3 linked regions of the Homo sapiens genome follow. The protein of the gene in region 3 interacts with the protein of the main gene of each other region in a pairwise test. Each region holds a gene or a part of one and is shown on either strand. Other genes may lie near its edges.

What was found.
Region 1: the proteins of GRSF1 (region 3) and ERO1A interact in a two-hybrid assay, tested with the Homo sapiens proteins (one study listed by BioGRID).
Region 2: the proteins of GRSF1 (region 3) and CNRIP1 interact in a two-hybrid assay, tested with the Homo sapiens proteins (one study listed by BioGRID).

The regions. Positions count from the first base shown.
Region 1 is NC_000014.9:52,685,520-52,692,558, forward strand, and holds part of ERO1A (ERO1-like protein alpha isoform 2 precursor), read right to left. Parts: intron 1-7,039. UniProt on the Homo sapiens protein: Oxidoreductase involved in disulfide bond formation in the endoplasmic reticulum. Efficiently reoxidizes P4HB/PDI, the enzyme catalyzing protein disulfide formation, in order to allow P4HB to sustain additional rounds of disulfide formation.
Region 2 is NC_000002.12:68,292,471-68,295,949, forward strand, and holds the end of CNRIP1 (CB1 cannabinoid receptor-interacting protein 1), read right to left. Parts: intron 1,557-3,479; coding exon 1,392-1,556; 3' UTR 540-1,391; downstream 1-539.
Region 3 is NC_000004.12:70,815,852-70,822,890, forward strand, and holds part of GRSF1 (G-rich sequence factor 1), read right to left. Parts: intron 5,011-7,039; 3' UTR 1-5,010. UniProt on the Homo sapiens protein: Regulator of post-transcriptional mitochondrial gene expression, required for assembly of the mitochondrial ribosome and for recruitment of mRNA and lncRNA. Binds RNAs containing the 14 base G-rich element.

The DNA of each region.
Region 1 (7,039 bases), on a different chromosome or scaffold from region 3:
GTTTCTCCCCTTTGATATGAATTATTATGCAAAGAATGACAGACATAGAGACTGCAAAGGCCAAAGGGACATATGCAAAGTAGAGACATTAAGTTACAAAAAGAAACACATGAAAAACTTGAGAGCAAGTTTCAAGGCATCCATTCTTCCCCCTGAGGAATTCATTTTTAAGGTTAAAATATATCTTCAAGCCTCAGCTCAGTATCACCTTTTTCAGGAAGCTGTCCTTCCAGTACTCCTTACCACCCGCTGGGTTAAATGCCTCTCCCAGCTGCTCCCAAGACACTCCACACACTATTATCTAAGTATTACTGTACCTCACAGCAGTGAATTTATCTATTTTACCCCTGCCCACTAAAGTATAAAATCCTTGAGTGAAAAATCATATACTTCCAGAAAGCACACAGTAGATGCTCAATAATTATTTGTGGCCTGTAATCCCAGCACCCTGGGAGGCCAAGGCGGGAGGATCACTTGAGGTCAGGAGTTGAAGACCAGCCTGACCAACATGGTGAAGCCCCATCCCTACCAGAAACATAAAAATTAGCCGGGCATGGTGGCCCATGCCTGTTGTCCCAGCTACTTGGGCGCCTGAGGCAGGAGAATCGCTTGAACCCAAAACGCAGAGGTTGCAGGGAACCAAGATCACACCACTGCACTGCACTCCAGCCTCGGCAACAAAGTGAGATTCTGTCACAAATAAATTATTACTATTTGTGGAAGAGGTGGGTGAATGAATGAATGTTGTCCATTGTCACTCATCACTGGAGACCAGCACCATACTGTCTCATTAAACATATCTAGCACCATGTCACCTATGGTGTGCTCAGTGCCCCAGAGTACACAAGCACAGGAGGCAGAAACACACATAGCAAGTAAAGCAAGCAGCAAAGGTAAACACCTTTTGTGTCTATCATTCTTCCTATCTCTATCCTAATTACAAAGGAAGCTCTAAGAAGCCCCAAACCAGAAAGAAATGCAAAAATCCTCCAGAGCAGAGGTGGCATATAGCCAAGAGACCTCAAAGGGAAAGAAGGCAGGATAAATGGTAGATTGGTAGATTTTAAAATGTTCTTGGCCGGGCACAGTGGCTCACGCCTGTAATCCCAGCACTTTGGGTGGCCGAGGCAGGCGGATCACAAGGTCAAGAGATTGAGACCATCCTAGCCAACATGGTGAAACCCTGTCTCCACTAAAAATTCAAAATTAGCTGGGCATGGTGGCACATGTCTGTAGTCCCAGCTGCTCAGGAGGCTGAGGCCGGAGAATCGCTTGAACCGGGGAGGCAGAGATTGCAGTGAGCCAAGATCACACCACTGCACTCCAGCCTGGGTGACAGAGCGAGACTCCATCTCAAAAAAAAAAAAATGTCCTGCCCCTTCCTGAAATATGGAGTAGGAGATATTCTTAACTACAACCACAGGTAGCAGGGCTGCTAAGGGAGTATAAGGGTGGCAGGAGTTTCAATGGATGAAGACAGCTCAGTAAAGGAAAGACAAGAAGATTCTCGGAAATCCATGCCATCTGACAACTCAGATAAGCCTGCCAACCTGATCCCTGGGAGAGAGTCTGGCAAAGATGGTGGCAGGACCAGTTCTAGAAACCAGAGAACAAAGCATGTTACTAGAATAGAATCTCAGGCTCATGCCTGTAATCAGCACTTTGGGAGGCCAAGGTTGGTAGGTCTCTTGAGCCTGGGAGTCCCAGATCAGCCTGAGCAACATGGTAAAACCCTGTCTCAACTAAAACTACAAAAAAAAATTAGCCAGGCATGGTGGCATACGCCTGCAGTCCCCGCTGCTTAGGAGGCTGAGGTGGGAGGATGGCTTGAGCCTGGGAAGTCGAAGCTGTGGTGAGCTGAGATTGCACCACTGCACTCCAGCCTGGGCAATGGGAGTGAGACCCTGTCTCAAAAAACAAAAAAGAATAGAGCCTCAGGAAAGGGCTAAGGTAAAATACAGTTAATAGACACAGAACAGGATCCGGGAAACAAAGCAAAATCCTATTACCTCAACTAAGACCAAAGACAGGTGGCAACCTGGAACAGGGAGGACTGGATGTTGTTTCAGGATGTGCTAAGGCTGCCTAAATAACTACTACATGGAACAATGCGGGTAAGGGGGAAAATTACTACGCTATATCCCAAAGTAAAACAGAACTCTGACCTACCACAGGAATCTAAATTTTTTTAAATGCTAATGTGTTTTAAAGGTTAGTATCCTAACATTTGAGGCTAACTGCTCTAGGCTTCAAGTAATGATAGCTTTTGGTAGAGGGCCAATCTAATAAGCAGAGATAAGAAGGCCCCAGTTGAGGAACAGTAAATAGGAGGACCAAGGTAGGCCTGACAAGTAACATGGACCACTTCAAAATTCCAGCCTTCTGTTCCAGCATGGTGGCTCACACGTGTAATTCCAGCACTTTGAGAGGTGAAGGCAGGAGGGTTGCTTGAGAACAGGAATTTGACACCAACCTGGGCAACACAGTGAGGCCCTATCTCTACAAAAAAATAAAATAACTAGCCAGGCATTGGGTGCACATCTGTAGTCCCAGCCACTTAGGAGGCTAAGGTGGGAGAATCGCTTGAGCCAGGGAGGTTGAGGCTGCAGTGAGCCATAATCATGCCAATGTACTCCAGCCTAAATGACAGAGCAAGACCTTGCCTCAAAAAAATAGAAAAGAAAAAAAAAAAGTCCTAGTCTTTTAAGAGTTAGAAAGCCTTGGAAGGCTTTCTATTACAATCTCCCAAGCAAAACAGCAAATCCCTCCATTCACATCCCTCAAGGAACAGGTAGTGTGTAACAATAGTTAGCGTGTATGTTCTAACATCAGACCTCCTTAGGTTTGAATCCCATCTCTGCCAGTCATTAGTTTTTCACTTTATCCCAGCTATTTAACCTCTCTAGGCCTTGGTTTCTCATCTTAATAGAAAATAGTAATAGTTCTCATCTCAAAGAGTTGATACCAAGATAAATAGTACAAAGTAAATTGTCAGTACATGTTAATCATTATTATTACCCTACTTCTACTTAAATGCTTCCAATGAAAGGGAAGCATGTATTACTTCCCAAAGCAGCACATGGCATTTTCATAATGAATAAGAAAAATACAGCCGAATTTGCAGCTAAAATTTCCCAAAAATTTGACATCTGTAGCCCCAATGGAACAAAGAACTAGATAACCAACAGTTAGCTGTGGAGGGAGCCTCAATTACCTTCTCTGTTGACTCTGTTTGATTTGACCAAATGCAAAAGGCAGGATAAAGGAAAATTACCACGTACCGCTTGTTCACTACTCTCATGTCAGAGGTATCCTTTAATTTGCAATGAAAGACAAAACAACACTTTCTAAAGTTTTCTTGTATACCAATATATTCTAGTCTTATTATACATTACCATTTTATTTTTTCACACAAAGCACTATAAGAATATATTCCTCATATACTTTTTTTTTGAGACGGAGTTTTATTCTTATTGCCCAGGCTGGAGTGCAATGGTGCAATCTCAGGTCACTGCAACCTCTGCCTCCCAGGTGCAAGAGACTCTCCTGCCTCAGCCTCCCAAGTAGCTGGGATTACAGGTGCCTGCCACCATGCCCGGCTAATTTTGTATTTTAGCAGACACAGGGTTTCACCATGTTGGTCAGGCTGGTCTCAAACTCCTGACCTCAGGTGATCCACCCGCCTCAGCCTCCCAGAGTGCTGGGATTACAGGCATGAGCCACTGCGCCCGGCCCTCATATACATTTTTTATGAAATACCTTTTAAACATGCTCAAAGTGTGAATTAGGAAAGTGAAAGAAATAAAAGGTATCCAAATAAAAAATACGTAAAATTGTCTCTTTTTGCAGATGACATGATCTTATATATAGAAAATCCTAAAGACTCCACCAGAAAACCATTAGAATAAATTCAGCAAAATTACAAGATACAAAATCAACATACAAAAATCAATTGTGCTTCTATACACTAACAATGAACTATCCAAAAAAAAATTAAGAAAACAATTCTATTTAGAATAGAATGAAAAAGAATAAACTACTTAGGAATAAATTTAACAAGGAGAGGAACGATCAGTATGCTGAAAACTATAAAGCAGTGATTAAAAAAACTGAAGATTACACAAATAAATGGAAAGATATCCCATGTTCATAAATTGAGAGAATTAATATTGTTAAAAAGCCCATACCACCCAAAGTGTTCTGCAGATTCAATGCAATTTCTATCAAAACTCCAATGGCATTTTTCACAAAAATAGAAAAAAAAATTGTAAAATTTGGATGGAACAGCAAAAGACCCCAAGTAGCTACAGCAATTTTGCAAGAACAAACCTGGAAGCAGCCTACTTTGTAATTTCAAATTATATTACAAAGCTACAGTCATCACAACAGTGTTGTATCAGCATAGAAACACATACATAGACCAATGGAAAACAATAGAAAGCCCAGAAATAAACCCACACATGTCTGGCCAACTAATCTTTGACCAAGACCAAACAATGGGAAAGCACAGTCTTGTCAATAAATGGTGGTGGGAAAACTGGATATCCATGTGCAAAAAAATGAAATTGGATCTTTATCTTACAACACACACAAAAGTCAACTAAAAGCTGATTAAAGACTTAAATGTTAGCCCTGAAACACCAAGACTCCTAGAAAAAAACATAGGAGAAAAGCTCCATGACATTAGTCTTGGCAATGATTTTTTATGTGACACCAAGAAGACCAGCAATAAAAGCAAAAATAAGTAAGTGGGACTACATGCAACTAAAATGTTTCTATGTAACAAAGAAACAAGCAACAAAATGAAAAGGCAACCTACAGAATGGGAGAAAATATTTGCAGACCATCTGTCTGACAAGATGTTATTATCCAAAATATAAAAGGAACTCATACAACTCAACAACAAAAAAACAAATAACCCAATTAAAAAATGGGCAAGGGCCGGGCACAGTGGCTCATGTCTATAATCCCAGCACTTTGGGAGGCCAAGGAGGGCAGATCACCTGAGGTCAGGAGTTCAAAATCAGCCTGGCCAACAGGGCAAGGTGGCGGGTGCCTGTAGTCCCAGCTACTTGGGAGGCTGAGGCAGGAGAATCACTTGAACCCAGGAGGCAGAGTTTGCAGTGAGCCAAGATCACGCCACTGCACTCCAGCCTGAGTGACAAAGTGAGACTCTGTCTCAAAAGAAAAAAAAAGGATAAGGACCTTTTATATATCAAAACATTATGTGGTACACCTTAAATATATGCATTTCTTTTTTCTTCTGACACGCAGTTTTGCTCTTGTCATCCAGGCTGGAGTGTGATGGTGCGATCTCACCTCACCACAACCTCTGCCTCCCGGATTCAAGCAATTCTCCTGCCTCAGCCTCCTGAGTAGCTGGGATTACAGGCATGTGCCACCACGCCCAGCTAATTTTGTATTTTTAGTAGAGATGGGGTTTCTTCATGTTGGTCAGACTGGTCTCGAACCCCCAACCTCAGGTGATCCACGTGCCTCAGCCTCCCAAAGTGTTGGAATTACAGGCGTAAGCCACCACACCCAGCCAATATATGCAATTTTTATGTGTCAATAAAGGTGGAGAGAAATACATAAATAAATCAATGTGCTCAAAGTGTGCTTTATTTGGCAAAGAACTTCAGGTGTATTTAATTTTACTGTGTTTTATCACCATAAAAAAATAACATAAAAAGTACTCATCTGTTGACAGAAGTACACTGGGACAAGTCTGTCAATGGAAGCAGGGAAATACCAAAGATTCCACACCAGGTAGTAGGCACCATCCTAAGGACCTAGAACGCTACAGGTCATTTTGGCTTTAAAGACTTAGTCTTGCCGAAACTTTAAATTGTCAAATGACTGGCAACCATCAGGAAAATATTTCTTCCACACAGTTTATTCAGAAAAGCCTGGAATGCAGCACACACATAGAGTCAGTGGACACCTCTCCAGTGTAACCTGTTTCAAAGATCCCTCTGACTAAGTTATAATCCTGGGCTTATTTCCATCCACCACTCAACATATTAGCAAGTGTCTCTCCCACGGCCCAGCCACCAGGCTAACAATTAAAACCATTGTTTCAACTGACCTAACAAGACACTTGACAGGTTAAATCTACTAAATGCGCTCCAAGCTAAAAAAGATCCATTTTTGGAGTATTTATTTTGGACTCTGAGCTACTCTCCCCTTTCATTAGCCTGACAGAGATTTACTGTGCTCAAATAAGCTATCCTGAGTGTTACTAGCACTAGCCATATTAAGATTGATAAAACATCATGAGCAAGTAAGAGTTTACAAACATCGTGAGCCACCATGCCTGGCCTAGGTTGTATATACAATTCTTACATGAGGTTACATATACAGATTTACAAGTCTAAGGCAATTAATCATTCATTTTGAGCAACTAACACTTAAGCACTATTATCAAAGGAACTTACAACATACAGTGAAAATAATTTTAGCAGGATTTGATATCAACTAACAGGCATATGTAGCAACTGACCAAATTCAAAGACTCAGTTGGAGCTATCAACCAATCTGAAAGATCAGTTCCAGAAAACATGCAAATGGCTTGCTAAGCAGAATAATTTTTAAAATATACTCCTGTTGGCATAGTGCTTGCATCTTATAATTTCCCTAGGACTTGTTGAGCACCAATTATTCACCAGGCTCACTTCTTGGAAGTGTCACACCTTTAATTCATTTTTTGATCTCCCAAAAATTGTTCACAGTAGGTTTCAACATATGCTTGATGAATTTAATCTGATTACTTGTAGAGCTCTACACATTTTAATTCAGTGACTTTCTAAGGTCACTGCTCTAGCTCAAATCAGAGCGGACATTCTGTGAACTGAACCCTACTATAAGCCAGGCACCATGCAGCAGTGTGATGATGGATGGGGATGTGGTAACCCAAGGCAGATGTGGTAAGAGGGACAGGCAACAGGAAGAAAAGATAAAACTATTACCAAAACAATCAACGGGACTGTGCAGCTCACTGGATATTGTAAACAGAACCAGAGAAGATTTTAACTTGTAT
Region 2 (3,479 bases), on a different chromosome or scaffold from region 3:
CAGGTAGCAAAAACAAACAATCCCCAACGAACTTTTTCCAATACTATAGGATTTGTGCTGCCCAAGTAAATATTACATTATTGGAAAATAGCATGTTACTTTTCAAGAGGAAGTTCACTTCCTTCTTATGGAATTTATCCTTAAACTGTATGGTATATGGGCTTTGTGCAAGGTGCTGGAAGTAGGCAAGGAGGCCTCAACCATGATGTACACACACTATTATAGCACCATTGCTCTCCTGCTACTGAGTCACATAGCTCACCAACTGGGGAGGGGTCACCACAGAAAGAGTAATGGAGCGAGATAGGTACAAGCATTTTTTGATTGCCCGCCAAGCACCTGGGCCTGTGCTAGCCCTGTTAAACTTGGCTGGAGCAATCCTGCTAAAAGGTCAGGCTTGATTCATGAATAGGTGTGCTAATTCTACTCCGGATACATCCCCGTCATCCTGTAGCATACAGGCCTGAGTGAAGCTGGCCTAGAGCAGGGATTCACCTGCTAGATAATTATTGCCCAAATTAAGAATGCAAGTCAGGGCATGATTTTCAACGCCTTTATTAAGAAATATCAAAAGTTGATTACAGGTCCATATGCAGTTTTACAAAGTTCAAGTGAAGAAGACTGTAGGGATGCCATCAATGTGCGTGTCTGAAGACTATGGAAGCTTGTCAAAGGGGTAACCCTACAACTCCTGTCACTTTAACAATGGTCCACAGCAATGCTTTTCCCCCATTTCTACTAGGCTAGGCCATTGCACAATACCTTAAGCTACTTAAAAGAGTTTTAATACGTTATAAATACGTACATATTTGTCCTTCTAGTTTGTTACCATCCTTCCCTGAAAGAGCGGAGCTGTTTATAGGAAGCACAACATTTGAGTCCCATTCACTGCTGTTTGTATTACATTTTCACAAAGCCTGCTTTGAAAGCTGGCAAACACTGCAAGTTACATGTTACCATATTACACATGGGAGGACCCATACACATTGTTATTTTTAAATTTAACATTGAACAAAAAAAAGGAGGAATCACTTAACTTGGAAACAAAACACCAAAGTTAGTCAGTGGAATGGTCAAGAGCAGGACAAGCCTGCCAGGGCCACTGAACTCCAGTCACAAGTGGTCAAAAGTATGACCGAGAACAACTGGATGCAGGAACATCAGCACAAAATACAGATGGGAATATTCTCGGGAGTGGTACATCACCATCTTGTATGTGAGGGATATTGTGTCAGAGGGGAATTACACTTTCAAAATAACCAGGGCTAGTAGGTCATTAGTACCAGATGGGGAACAGCAATGGTGTGGCATGCCTTGTTTAAGGCCTGCGCTGGTTTATCTAAAAGTAGATTTCTGAAAAGATTGTCCAGTAGCATCAGAAAGAGCCACTTTCAGAGGAAGGACTCCTTGTTCACCCACATCAGACTGCGTGTCTCGTTGGGCTTGCATTCATACTCAATGACAGAGAAGGGGCTTCCCCACTGGCAGTGATCCCGCTTGTGGTAATTGTAGAACTTGACTTGCCACACTGTCTCGAAGGTCCCAATGTCTGTGAACTGAGGGAAGAGAAACATGCCTGATAAAAAACCTCATTCTGCCACGAGCAATAGATGAGAGCTAACATTAGTGATGTAGCTCCTGGATAATCAAGCAGACCCAGTCCAGATTCTCTTGGTCTGCAAGGCTCGGAAGGCTTTCCTTTAGTGGTCTAGCTCCCTCCTTTATGATGGGAGATATTTTCCTAAAAAGCTGTCTGTAAACCATTCTTCTCTATAAAATCTGATTCCCATTGCAAACGTGCCACTCGCTATCATATTGCTTTTAATAAAAATAACTGCAAAGTTTATCTTGTTTTTCAAGTTTAATTTTTTGAAAACTTAGAATTTTAAAGCTTACTCTAAAATGGCCCCTGCTGGCCAGGTGCAGTGGTTCACCCCTGTAATCCCAGGCTGAGGCAGGATGCTAGCTTGAAGCCAGGGGTTCCAGAATAGCCTGAACAACAAAGCAAGATTCTGTCTCTAAAACAAACCCCCATGTTCATCCCCCAAATGGTCCCTGCTACAGAAGGGGAATGGCGAAGGGAAGAGAAGGAATAAAGTTTACTGGCTTTTCTCAAAATACAATGGTACAAAACAACCTGTCTACAATACATCTACATAAAATTTCCATCATTAGTTTCAATTCCAAAGAAAAATATTTCAAAGTGATAACTGAAAATATTTCATTGGAAGTGTTAAAGGCCATATTTTAACTATTAAACATTGAATACTTATAAGTCAGGAGTCCATGCCTACATCTTGGGCTTAGATTATACATTACCCAGAACCATATTTGAGTATCTGCTATGTACCTTGCATGTATAAAAATTCGTATAAGGCAGGATTGTTGCTCTTAAGAAGTTAGCATTCTACTTCCAGAAGGTAGGCCCTGTAAATCACTGCACAGAACTCTCCTGAGGTATAAAGTACACATTTCTCTTGCAGCTGAGAAGAGTACCTGGAATACCCTGGAGGCCACTGGGCAGATGCTCAAGTGGCCTGTGGGGTAGCCTGACCCTGCTACTGCCTTCTGGAGCTATTTAGGGGATCTGGCATTAAACTGCATGATGCCTGTCGTTATTTTCTCCTCTGACCCTCCCCTGTCATGGGAGGGGACAGGGACTGACTTGGCAGGACTCTTAGACTTGTCTGGAGCCAGAAGACGTGGACAGAGGAAGGCAGTGAGCATTAGGAGTCTTATGCTTCTTGCTGATACAGGAGGAGGGTGATCAGGTGCTTTCCAGATAGCTTTCCAAGATGCTCTCAAAATTATATCTTGCACCATTGCCTCATCCTGCTAATTTGATCCCAAAACAAGATCTAGGCTTTCCTCTGGGAAATTTGCTTGATTTGAAATAGTGGATGATATACCTAGAGTCCACAGACCTCCCAGGTATGAAAGTGGATTACCTCTTTTTAGAGAGTCATGGCTTAAAGACCTATATAAGCATACAGCAGCTTTATTCACAATAGCCCCAGGTTGGAATTGACCCAAATGTTTATTCACATGTTGATAAGCAAGTTTTGGTATATTTATAAAATGGCCTTTTGCTGAACAATAAAGGAAGACATGCTGATTCAAGCAGCAACAGGGATGGATCTCAAAGACATGCTAAGCAAAATAATCTAGGCCCCCAAAGTACATGCTGTATGAATCCATCTATATAGTGACAGAATGTAACCTACACTGACAGGAAACATCTGTGGTTATCTAGAGCCTAGGGTGAGAAGGGGAACTGATGCAAATGTGCAAGAGGGAACTTTTTAGGGGTGATGGAAGCATTCTGTATCTTGATTGGGATGGTGGTTACATGGCTGTACATATATGTTGGTCAAAACTAATTGAACTGTATGCTTAAGATGAGTCCATTTATTACATGTAAACTATACCTCAAAGTTAAGAAAAATAGAAATATCCATTTTTAGTGAGCTATAAGAAAA
Region 3 (7,039 bases):
GTTGTTCACCTAACAGGTGAAACGTTAAAATGTGGCATTCATACATAGAACACTGCTCAGCCATAAAAAGGAACAAAGCTTAAACACACTGATGAACATACAAACATGCTGAGTAAAAGGAACTTACAGAATACATACTGCATAAGTGAGTCCGTTATATGAAGTTCTAGAATAGGCAAAATTAATCTACAGTGAACAAAATCCTAACAGTAGCTGACTGCCAGGGGAGGGAAGAAGGGACAGGAGAGAGAGGTGCAGGAATTGACTAGGTGAAAAAATTCAGATGTAATACAGATGTTCCAGACATAGGGGTTTGAGTTACATGCTTTTACATCAAAACTCATCAAATGAGTCTGGGTATGGTGGCTCACACCTGTAATCCCAGCTACTCGGGAGGCTGAGGCAGGAGACTCCCTTGAACCCAGGAGGTGGAGGTTGCAGTGAGCCAAGACCAGGCCACTGCACTCTAGCCTGGGCGATACAAGACTCCATCTCAAAAAAAAAAAAAAAAAAAGAAAAAACCTCATCAAATGATACACTTAACATTTATTCACCTTACTGCAAATCTCCCTCAAAAAAACTCCAATGACGGCTGGGTGTGGTGGCTGATGCCTGTAATCCCAGCACTTTGGGAGGCCGAGGCAGGCAAATGACTGGAGGCCAGGAGTTCCAGACCAGCCTGGCCAACATGATGAAACCCCATCTCTACTAAAAATACAAAAATTAGTCAGGCGTGGTGGTGCACATCTGTAATCCCAGCTACTCGGGAATCTGAGGCATGAGAATTGCTTGAAACTGGGAGGTGGAGGCTGTAATGAGCTGGGATCACGTCACTATAACTCCAGCCTGGGTGACAGAGCGACTGTCTCAAACACAAAAAACAAAAACAAAAACAAATTCCCATGACATGTATGCTGAAAGGATTAAAAGTGAAAAATGTCTACAACTTACTTGGACATGCATATAGAAAAAAAGATGAGACTGCAGGAGGCAGGCTATGGGATAAAGCATGGCAAAATGCTGCTTGTACAATCTAAGGGATGGGTATTGGCATCACCAAGATTTTATATACTGACAGAAAATGATCTTTAGGGTGTTTAGGTGGGAGAAAAGCCAAAATACAAAATAGCATGTACAGTATAATTTATATTTTTAAAAGAAATGACAACACCCACTAACACTTGCTTATAAATAAAGTAAAAGTCACTGCAAGCTTACACTAGAAACTGATAACAGGGCTGTGCGAGAATAGAAACTAAACAGCTGAATTACAGGAGGGGAAGGAGAATCTTCACTACCGTTTGTATCTCTTCAAGTTTATTTCCTTCAAAAAATAAAATATAAACAACTTTAAAATGAGCCTGCTTTTTTTTTTTCTGAGACAGGGTCTCACTCTGTCACTCAGGCTGGAGTGCAGCAACAGTCATGGCTCACTGCAGGCTTGACTTCCCAGGCTCAAGCAGTCCTCCCACTTCAGCCTCACAAAGTGCGGGGATTACAGATGTCAGCCACCACACCTAGCCTATTCTTGATTTTCATATAATCAGGCTTAAGACAGATTAAACCTTCCTTCCTATACTTCCTTTCTAAAAATAAGAAAACCACTAGAACTAAAATTCTGGACAGAAAATCCAGACACCTCACCAATGATGATATAAGGATGGCAGATTAAGTATATGAAAAGGTGCTCCACATCACTATGGGATTGGGAATTAAAACGATGAGACCACTATTCACCCATTAGCTAAAATGCAAGAGTGACATCACCAAATACTAATGAGGGTGAGGAGCTACAGGAACTCTTATTCATTGTCAATGGGAATTCAAAATAGTCATGTTGGAACAGTTTGGCAGTTTCTTCCAAAACTAAACATACTCTTAACTTACAATCCAGCAACCTGGTTCCTTGGTATTTACCCAAAGGAGCTGAAAACGAGTCTACACAAAAACCTGCACATAAATGTTTATAGCAGCTTTATTCCCTTCCTACAAACTTCAGATTCTCTTCTAATTTGCTGAACTTGGGGAGTGGGAGGGTAATGTATTTCTAATGCGATAGCGCAATTTGGATTGGAACTCTACTGCTGACATACATACCATTCTCCTCTATACTATAGGTCCTACCAATTCAATGTGAGTGTCTTCCGATAATTTAGGGGAAACTCTCAGAACAATGGAGTTTTTTGTATTTTGGTTTTTTTGATTTTGACAGAGTCTCACTCTGTTGCCCAGGCTGGAGTGCAATGGTGTGATCTTGGCTCGCTACAACCTCTGCCTCCCAGGTTCAAGCGATTCTCCTGCCTTGGCCTCCCAAGTAACTGGGATTACAGGCGTGTGCCACACCTGGCTAATTTTTGCATTTTCAGTAGAGCCGGAGTTTCACTAAGTTGGCCAGGCTAATCTTGAACTCCTGACCTCAAGTGACCCACCATGGAGGGTTTTAAATTCTGAAACAAACAGGATGTAACCCCAAAAAATAACTTTCCAAATGAGAACTGAGTAAGGGCTGTTCAGGGCAGAGGACATTAACAAGGCATGTTGATTAATAAGCAGATTCATGGCACACAATGTTGCCTTCAAACTGGGTTCCTTATGCTTCCCCCTTCAAGTAACACAGAAGTAGTGAGAATTTGGAGCCTTCCTCCCAGGGAAGATTCGGTCCCCCTTCCCACATGACAGAAGCTTAAGTTACCCACGCATAAAGGGACACATACTCTATTTCTGCTTCATTGCCTGGTGTCAATATTTAGATGAGACCACAATATTCAGATGAGACCACAATATTCAGCAATCAGCTCCCTGGTATTTACATACTGCTTCTCAGAGTTCTCCCTTGCACTCCGTAAGCAGCAGCTAGGCTAAAGCAGGATATGAGCACCCTGACCATATGCCCCACTCCCACTATTCTTCCTGATGGCTTTACCACAAAGGAAGTTATAGACACAAGGAACCCAAACAGAAGGAAATTCACCATCACTGCTTCCTTCAATAGCAAAGAGTGATGCAAAACAGTCTTCTCAAATGTGGGGAGACGGTACCGTCTTCCACTTGCATGGAAATAAGATTACTTTTACTGTATTATGTGCTTCTCTTCCTTTCCCATAACTACATCCACCTTAGCAATCACTTACGTACTAGCCTAGATCATGAACAAAAACAAAAGGGAGCATTCAAATACATAAAATGATTTCCCAATAATGGCCACATTTTGTACAGAAAACTCAGCCTGTAGCGTGCCAAGAAGATATATCCTTTCAACCTTACCCATCCATCATATAGCATTTTAATGCTTTGCTTGCATTCTTTTTCCAGAGATGTGCAAATAAAACTCATTAGCTTAAATCAATTGCAGATGAATTCCTCACAGTAGGCCCCACAGATCTTTTCCACAGCAAATCAGATACCAAATGTGAAAGAGCAACAAAGATCACATTCTAATAGTTCGTACAACTACAGATACCAGTTCTCATAGCTTGGCATATTCAACCATATATGAAAACGCATTTCCATCTAGGCAGTACTACTGATGATGTTAAGCTGGTTAAGTCATGTTCACAGGATTTTAGAGAACACACACACGAAAATTAACCCTTACTACTTATATTAATATAGCAGGACTTGAGGTAATAATATATTCAGTTGACTCACAGACTCCAATAATAAATACTCTTAGGTAATCTTCAGCCTGAAACAAGTCTTCATTTATTGACTACAGTACAGTGATTTCGCATCTTAGCTGGTAATCAAAGATGGTTATGTATTAAGTAAGAGAAGACATAGTCTCTCTTCCAGGTATCACCTGTCAGAAACCTGGGCAAATTTAATTTTAAGAACTAGAACTGCATCTCCTGGTGGCAGTCGTCACCCTGAGAACAGGAACAAGGCAAAGAAAGCATACAGGATTTTGATTCTCCTACACAGGTGCACATAAAGTTAGTTTATTAATGACTATATTTTGAAGCCAGCCATTTTGTCCAATATTTAAATAACAAGCTGTTTAATATTAAAGCAGAAAGTACTGCCACATTGTGACAGAAGTACAGCTTTATCCATAAACCCTTCACACAATTATACATTAAATGCTATTTTTATTTAAGCAAGGCACCCCTACTTGTTCTAAAATATGGGATGTACTACTCCATTTAAAAAGCAAATGAGGAGACTGATTTTTTTCCTATCTAGAGCTGGTTTAAATTCAAGTGAAGCCATTAATTTTCTTACCAGTCTGGACTGTTCTGACATGTCACTTCACAGTTTTGAGACTAACAAACACCCTTAGGTCTACCCCAAACCAAAAAAAGCCAGGGAGGGACAGTTTAGACAACTTTTAAGTTAAGACTAGAATGCCCCCTTAAGTAGATAGGCACCACCGTTATACGCCTTTAGCACAAGGCTTAGAAAGGCAAAACATTTCTAAAGACATAAAACCGCCAAATTGTCATTTACACTAAGCTGTGGTATTTTTTGTTTTGATTTTTAAAAATTCCTATCTCTAAGTAATCAAATACAGCAAAATTTAAAACTATTCTGCCAAACCATACCAGTTCAAAGGTCTGAAACCGTTCTTTGCTTTGGTGAATGTTTGGTTAAAATAAATCACTGTTTCACTCCATGAGAAGTTTTACATCAGAGCACTCAATTCACAGGCAAAAAAAAAAAGTTACTTTTTAAATGAAACCGTTTAAAGAACACTGCTGAATAAAAATATGTGGTCTTTACAATGAGTAACATATCATCTATGAAAACAAACCATTTAATCATATAAAACAAAGACCATATTTTTAAATCAGATCCTGGACAGTTTAAACAAAAATTTTAATTTGTGGTTTATTTCATAATCCCAAACTGGATCTTTCATTTCTTCTTCTAAACAGTCCACTATGAAACTTTTCTTAGAAGCAATTAACCCAAAACACCAAAATCATTTCCCTAGCAGTTGCTGCTAATAAACTGGAACTGTATATCCCAAGTCCAAGAAAGATGTGCAAATGAAATGCTTCTTGCTTCACCCTAAAAATAAAACAAAAAATATTGTACATTTACTCAAGATGAAAAAGGATGGCACACATTCCCATACCATTTAAAATTGCAAATTCAAATTTTTCTCCTTTCTAATTTAGTGCAAGCTATCTGATAAACCGAGTTAAAGTGAGGAAAACTAGTCAGGCATTAGTGTTTACAGGCTGGTACAAAAAACTGAGTTTCAGAATATATTTTAAATAGATTTTAGCTATTATAAATATTTAACACCAAAGAATTGTGGGACTTCATATCCAAAAATAGCAACAGAAGAGGCCAGGCACGGTGGCTCACGCCTGTAATCCCAGCACTTTGGGAGGTTGAGGCGGGCAGATCAGCTGAGGTCAGGAGTTCGAGACCAACCCGGCCAACATAAAGAAACCCCGTCTCCACAAAAATAAAAAATTAGCCGGGTGTGGTGGCGCATGCCTGTAATCCCAGCTACTGGGGAGGCTGAGGCAGGAGAATCACTTGAACCCAGGAGGCAGAGGTTGCAGTGAGCTGAGACTGTGCCATTGCACTCCAACCTGGGCAACGAGAGAAACTCCGTCTCAAAAAATAAATAAATAAAAATAAAATACAAAACTTAGCCGGGCATGGTGGCATACGCCTGTAGCCCCAGCTACTTCATAGACTGAGGCAGGAGAATCGCTTGAACCCGGGGGGCGGAGGTTGCAGTAAGCGGAGATCACACCACTGCACTCCAGCCTGGGCGACAGAGAGAGACTCCGTCTCCCAAAAAAAAAAAAAAAGCAATAGAATAGGATATAGTAATAGAATGAATGTCCGTGTTTTTTTGTTCCTTTTTTTTTTTTTTTTTTGAGACAGAGTTTCGTTCTGTCATCCAGGCTGGTGGAGTGCAGTGGCACCATCTCAGTCACTGCAACCTCCGCCTCCCAGATTCATGTGATTCTCCTGCCTCAGCCTTCCCAGTAGCTGGAACTACAGACATGCACCACCACACCCAGCTAATTTTTGTATTTTTAGGAGAGACAGGGTTTCGCCATTTTGGCCAGGCTGGTCTCAAACTCCTGACCTCAGGTGATCTGCCTGCCTCAGCCTCCTGAAGTAATGGGATTACTGGAGTAACCCACCATGCCTGGCCCCATGTGTTTTCAAGAAATCATTACAGGTAAGTGTCTCAAAAGAATGAGCCATTACCTGTAGAAAAGTGACTGCAATACAACAGTAATACTTACAATACCTTATGGGAAAAAAAAAAGACACCATATATTTAATCGAGGCAAGGAACATCAAGATGTATTAAGCAAATCTCACGGGTAGGTTAACACTATAAAATTATGTACTTCCTAAGGCAAAAAAAAAATGCCATTTTAGGAAAAGGAAACAGTGGCACATTAACTGTGTTTATGGATGATACACTCTGGTTTCACATGGTATCCTTTTAAAAATACCTTAAAACAGAAAATGGCTGGGCGTGGTGGCTCACACCTGTAATCCCAGCACTTTGGGAGGCTGAGGCTAGCGGATCACTGGATGTCGGGAGTTTGAGACCAGCCTGGCCAACATGGTGAAACCCCGTCTCTACTAAATATACAAAAATTAGCTGGATGTGGTAGAGAATGCCTGTAATCCTAGCTACTTGGGAGGCTGAGGCAGAAGAATCACTTGAACCCGGGAGGCAGGGGTTGCAGTGAGCTGAGATTGTGCCACTGCACTTCACCCTGGGCAAAAAGAGTGAGATTTCATATCAAAAAAAAAAAAAAAAAAAAAACAAAAGTAACCTGAGAAAATGGAAAACGTGTTTAAATTTAAGTGGGGAAAAAAAGCTAATGCAAGTCACATATCCAGTCTATTACGATTTATAGCTACTAAAGGTGGCTATTTTTTGGCAAACAGCATGATGTTGGAAATTATGCATAAAAATTCTATATGGAGATAATGCTCAAAGCTACCATATAAATCATAAGGAATTATGGCTGGGAGCAGTGGCTCACTCCTGTAATCCCAGCACTTTGGGAAGCCAAGGCAGGTAAATCACTTGAGGCCAGGAGTTAGT